2 separate regions of the Homo sapiens genome follow, and region 2 is linked to region 1. A link means that fine-mapping ties the variant in region 1 to the expression of a gene that starts in the linked region. Tissue or cell type: naive CD4 T cells. Region 1 holds a variant in brackets; the other region holds the start of a gene. All regions are shown on one strand. Distances are between the middles of the regions.

What was found. PIP is the estimated chance that this variant, and not a neighbour inherited with it, causes the effect.
Region 2: PDIA6 starts here. The variant in region 1 is fine-mapped to the expression of PDIA6 in naive CD4 T cells (Schmiedel 2018, PIP 0.95).

Annotation. Positions count from the first base shown.
Region 1 is chr2:11,006,123-11,008,878 of GRCh38, forward strand. No RefSeq gene overlaps it. Among named protein-coding and RNA genes, the nearest start is that of KCNF1, 96 kb to the left of the region's middle. The variant A/T (reference allele first, on the strand shown) is at 1,182.
Region 2 is chr2:10,811,159-10,813,786 of GRCh38, forward strand. PDIA6 (protein disulfide isomerase family A member 6) reads right to left here and starts at 1,627. Exons shown (of 13, transcript NM_005742.4): 1 at 1,520-1,627. The coding sequence starts at 1,538. RefSeq lists an enhancer at 630-689 and a silencer at 1,180-1,929.

The DNA.
Region 1 (2,756 bases):
AATCCTATATCCTTGAAAGTGGATGAGGAAATCAGAAGAGAGCCATCAGAGAGCAACACGAGAACTCATCCAACACCATCGGCCTTGAGGCTGGAGGAAGGGAGATGAGCAAGTGCGTCCAGAAGCTGCAAACGGTGAGGCTCCCACTCTCCCCTGCAGCCTCCAGGGAGGGATGCGCGTTGATTTGAGCCCAGTGAGATGTGTGCTGGATTTCTACTCTACAGAACTGTAAGCTAGTCACTTTGTGTTGTTCCAAGCCACTACGTCTGTGGTAGGGTTAGGGTTAGAGTTGGGGTTTGGGTTATCACAGCAGCCACAGAAAAGAGGGGTCACCAAAAGAGAGGCTGCCTGCGATGGGAAAGCCATGGACCCAGGACCCTGCATTACTGGAGCCAGGTCTCTCTGTTCTAGGGGCCCGGAGACTCAGAGAGGTGGTAGTATTAGCTCTGCTTTATCAATTAAGAAACTGAAGGGCAGAGAGGTCAAAAAAACCTGCCTCAAGCTACACAGCATTCTGCGGCAGTTCTGGGATTCGAGCCCAGGCAGCCTGACTGTGGGGCTGTATTCTCATCCACTCCCTAACACTGCCTGTTGCACGATATGCTGGGTGTTGTGTAACTTATATAGCAAAATACTAGAAACAATCTTATTGTCTAACACTAGGATTAAGTATTAATAAATCATCATAAGGCATCAACTCATTGGGTTTTATGAAGGCTTTCAAATAAATATGAGCACCACGGGAAAATATTGACAACGTGAAATGAAAACAGCAGAATGCAGAATCATGCTTACCTTACGATTACATGATGACAATATGGCAAGGCCTGAAGCAGGATCATGAGGAAACAGAGACCTCTATGAGGGTGGTAGGAGCAAGCAGCCTGCGTGTCCTGTGATCCCCTGCAAATGAAGGTGGCACCATAGTTAGCAGCATGGGATGCTCAGAGAACAGAGGGAATGTGTTGCCGGACAGACGGACTGGCTCCACCAGATACCACCTATGTTCTGTAACTTCTCAGAGCCACTGTGTGTCATGTACAACGGGAGTCATAACACCACCAGGTTCATAGAGCTGTGGTAAGCGTCAAATGAGACCATGTTTGCAAAGATGTGGTGGTTCTATAAACCTCAGCTCCCCCCGTGTCTCCCTGGCTTTTAAGGTTTTTTGTTGTCGTTGT[A/T]AACATTATAACATTTTTAAAAACTAGTCCTCCAAGGTTTATTTTGGAGGATTTCTGAGACTAACTCAGGGGGAAGCAGTGATGAAGAGGCCTCAACGGTCATGATGCCCATGGACCCGTCTTCAGTTGTGTTGAGAAGGAGAGGCTGCAGGTGTTTAAAACGCACAGTGCTGATGCATTTGACACAGTGCGCTCCTGAGGCCATCGCCATGGTCTCAATAACAAATGCCCGGGTGCGGGGAGCGGGGAGGGATAGCATTGGGAGATATACCTAATGCTAGATGACGAGTCGGTGGGTGCAGCGCACCAGCATGGCACGTGTATACATATGTAACTAACCTGCACATTGTGCACATGTACCCTAAAACTTAAAGTATAATAATAATAAATAAATAAATAAATAAATAAATAAATAAATAAATAAAAAATGCCCATCATCCTGATAGTGTCCTGGGCCCTTGTCACCCCCCCTTTTCACCCTCTGCCCAATTCCCAGGCAACCCTCATCTGCTTTCAGTCAAACCGGTGGCTTCTAATCAGCAATGTTCATTTGTCGTCAGGGATGGTCACTGTCAGAGTTTATACCTTTTTTTGTAATGAAATAGGAATGAAAGCATGTCATTAAGCACTGATGGGACAAGGCAATTTAGCTACCACTGGGTTGCATATTCATAGCTGAGCCCTAATTAAATAACTGTCAAAACAACTCCTTTTCAATATCTCCTCCGGTGTGATGTGTACGCAGATAACCAGCAGACGGGTGAGCAGCTCGCAACTCTCCCAGCTGTCCCTTGACAGGTATTAGACATCCAGGTGGAGCCTGTCTGCTTTTACCCATGACCCCAACACTGGGTAGTGCTATCCCTGCTGGCAGGTGCAGGCACCCTGATTTCTGATTTCCACCTCTCTCCTTCCTCTTCCCTGGCCTTTCCTTCCTCCTTCTGCTGCAGCTCCCCTGCTGTGGAACATTCGAGAGCCATCATGCATTCAGCATGTCTCACTCTATTTAAATAGGGATGGGAAAGAGCAGCTCTCTTTTTGGCTTGTTTTGTCCTAGTCTGACCCTTCTAAGATCAGAGACGGTCCAACTCCAGGGGGCTTGAGGCCGTGTCTCTGGGTATTGTTGCTGTGGCTGGAGCGATGTGCAGAGAGGCCTTTCCAGGAGCCCCCCTACCCAGTTTATCTGAAGCCAGGTGGGGTGAGAGGTGGGTGTGCGTGCGGACTCTGACCCTGGTTTTGAGCCTCACATTAATCTTAACTACGCCTCACTATTGGGAATAGTGCCGCAATAAACATATGTGTTCATGTGTCTTTATAGCAGCATGATTTAGAATCCTTTGGGTATATACCCAGTAATAGGATGGCTGGGTCAAATGGTATTTCTAGTTGTAGATTCTTGAGGAATCGCATTAAGAGATATACCTAATGTAAATGACAAGTTAATGGGTGCAGCACACCAACATGGCACAGGTATACATATGTAACAAACCTGCACGTTGTGCATATGTACCCTAGAACTTAAAGTATAATAATAATAATAAAAAAGCCTAACTACACCTCTTTCTTCCTTCTTTC
Region 2 (2,628 bases), 200 kb before region 1:
AGGAAACTAAACAGACTAAACTCTTTTCCCCTCATCTACTCTCTCCACAGTAATATGGCAAATATTTACATCTCTTTAAAACATGTACTAGCTGGGCCAGGTGACTGACACTTGTAATCCCAGGATTTTGGGAGGTTGAGGAAGGAGGATCACTCGAGGCCAGGAGTTTGAGACCAACCTGAGCAATACAATGAGACCCTGACTCTACAAAAAATTTAAAAATTAGCCAGGTGTGGTGGCATGTGCCTGGATCCCTTGAGACCAGGAGTTCCAGGCTGCAGTGAACTATGATGGAAACCCTGCACTCCAGCCTAGGAGACAGAGCAAGACCGTGTCTCAAAAAACAGAAAGACATGTACTAACTCATTAATCCTCAGGACAACCCTAAGGGAGTACTATTATCAGTCCCTAAAATGGTGAACACCGTTGAAAAGGCACTGGCACAGAGTGGTTAAGTAACTTGCTCCAAGTCACAGAGCCAGTAAATAGGGGGAAGGTGGTCTGAGGCCAGAGCCGAGGTTAAGGACTGTCAGAGCCAAGGCTGTGACCAAGGCGAGCCCGGCAAGGACAGGACCCTCGGCCTCGCCCACTAAGAAGCAGACATTTACAGAATTCCTAAGACGCCGCGTTCCATTTCGTTTTTAAGGAGTCCGATCACATGCGAAGCGCCCCTGCGTCTTAAGCCCAGCTTTTGGAAGGCACTGTCCCTTTCTAAGGGAACTATGGGTCCTTATTTCAGGACTGAGATTTAACATTTCAGTTTTTCGTTTCTGAGACAGAGTTTCACTCTTGTTGCCCAGGCTGGAGTGGCGCGATCTCGGCTCACTGCAACCTCCGCCTCCTGGGGGTTCAGGAGATTCTCCTGCCTCAGCCTTCTGAGTAGCTGGGATCACTGGCGCGCGACACCACGCCCGACTAATTTTGTATTTTTAGTAGAGACGGGGTTTCGCCATGTTGGTCAGGCTGGTCTCGAACTCCTGACCTCAGATGATCCACCCGCTTCGGCCTTCCAAAGTGCTGGGATTACAGGTGTGAGCCACCGCGCCCGGCTTAACATTTCAGTTTTTAAAAGTAGGAGCTGCATAAAGCAGGTGGCAGAAACAAGCAGCAGTGCAGGACGCCCGCCAACCTCCGTCCCCACGCACGAGTTCGAGAAGAGCCCGGAACAAGCTCCCCTGCGACTCTCCGGGAATACAGACCCCCTCCCCGGGATCCGGCCGGGGCTGGGCTCCGCGGCTCTCCCGCCCGGCCCTGGACCCCGCGCCCGGCTCCAGCGCACGAGGCTCCCGCCCCCCGCGGCTGCGGAAGCCCCTCCCCACGGGCGCCCGAGTCTCCCGCGCACCCGCACCTCCGCCGGGGCAACCTAGCAGCTCCTCCGGACGCCGAGGCCCGCGCCTCCCGCCCGCCAGGCCCACTTCCGGCCGCCTGCGGCCGCGGCCCGCCGGGGAACGGCCTAGAGATTCGAAACCTTTCAGGCCGACCCCAGCTCGCCCGCCTCCCTCCGCTGGCCCGCACCTACCGAGCACCAGGAGAGCCATGCCGAGCGCCGGGCTACGTGCAGTCCCCACCGCCGCCGCCGCTTCAGCCCTGCAGCGTGCCGCACGCCGCGCCCCCGCGCCCACGTCCCGCCCCAGGCCAGTCCGGTGGTCCGAGGGGCGGCCGCGCGGGGGCGGGCCGGAAGGCGCTCGCCAAGCCGTGGCTGCGGCTCATTGGTCCGGGCGGACATCGCTCACTCACATATCCAATGGGAGGCGGCCGGGTAGAGGTTACCGGTTTGGTTTTTTTTCACGGGGGCGGTGGCGAGCAGCGGAAGGCGGGGCCTGCTGGGGGCGGGGCTGGCAGTCTCGGCTCGCACCGCCTCAGCTCCTCCGGGCCCTCTCGGGGTGCTGCTCGGAGGGGAGTCCAGTACTGGGCGTTTTTACCTTAGTTCCTTATTCTGCACCCCCCCACCCCGCCTCCTCCTTGCCTGTGTGCGCCCCCACCCTCTTTATCCCGGGGGAGCGTGACTCGGCCTCAGGGCACCCACGGTCCTGGGAGCTGACAGGGAATTCCTCTTGTGCCCGACGAATATTCCGTGGACACACATTTGCTCCGCACGCGCTGTCTGCAATGTAATTCGACAAGTTTCTATTTTGTTGAATTACTTTTGAAAGTTCTTCCGTCCAGGGCGCATGGCTCTGCAGAGCCTTCTCCTCCTTCTCTGGAGAACCCCAGGGACTTAAGCGGTAGCCTCCTCGCTGACAGGGTCTCCACTTTGTCCTGGGGGGCGAGGGGGCTGGCAATGCGCTCACGTGGGTGTGTGCTTTGTAAAATATGCAAAAGTGAAAAAAAATATGTTTGTGGGGCAGGCTGGCGAGCAGTGGCATGATACAGTTCACTGCAGCCTTGAACTCCTGGGCTGCAGTGAGCCTCCTGCCTCGGCCTCCCAAAGTGCTGGGATCACAGGCATGGGCCACCACGCCCGGCAAAAGTAAAAATTTTTTTGCTTTTTTTTGAGATGGAGTTTTGCCCTTGTTGCCCAGGCTGGAGTGCAAAGGCGGGGTCTTGGCTCACTGCAACCTCTGCCTCCCGGGTTCAAGCGATTCTCTTGCCTCAGCTTCCCGAGAAGCTGGGATGACAGGTGCATGT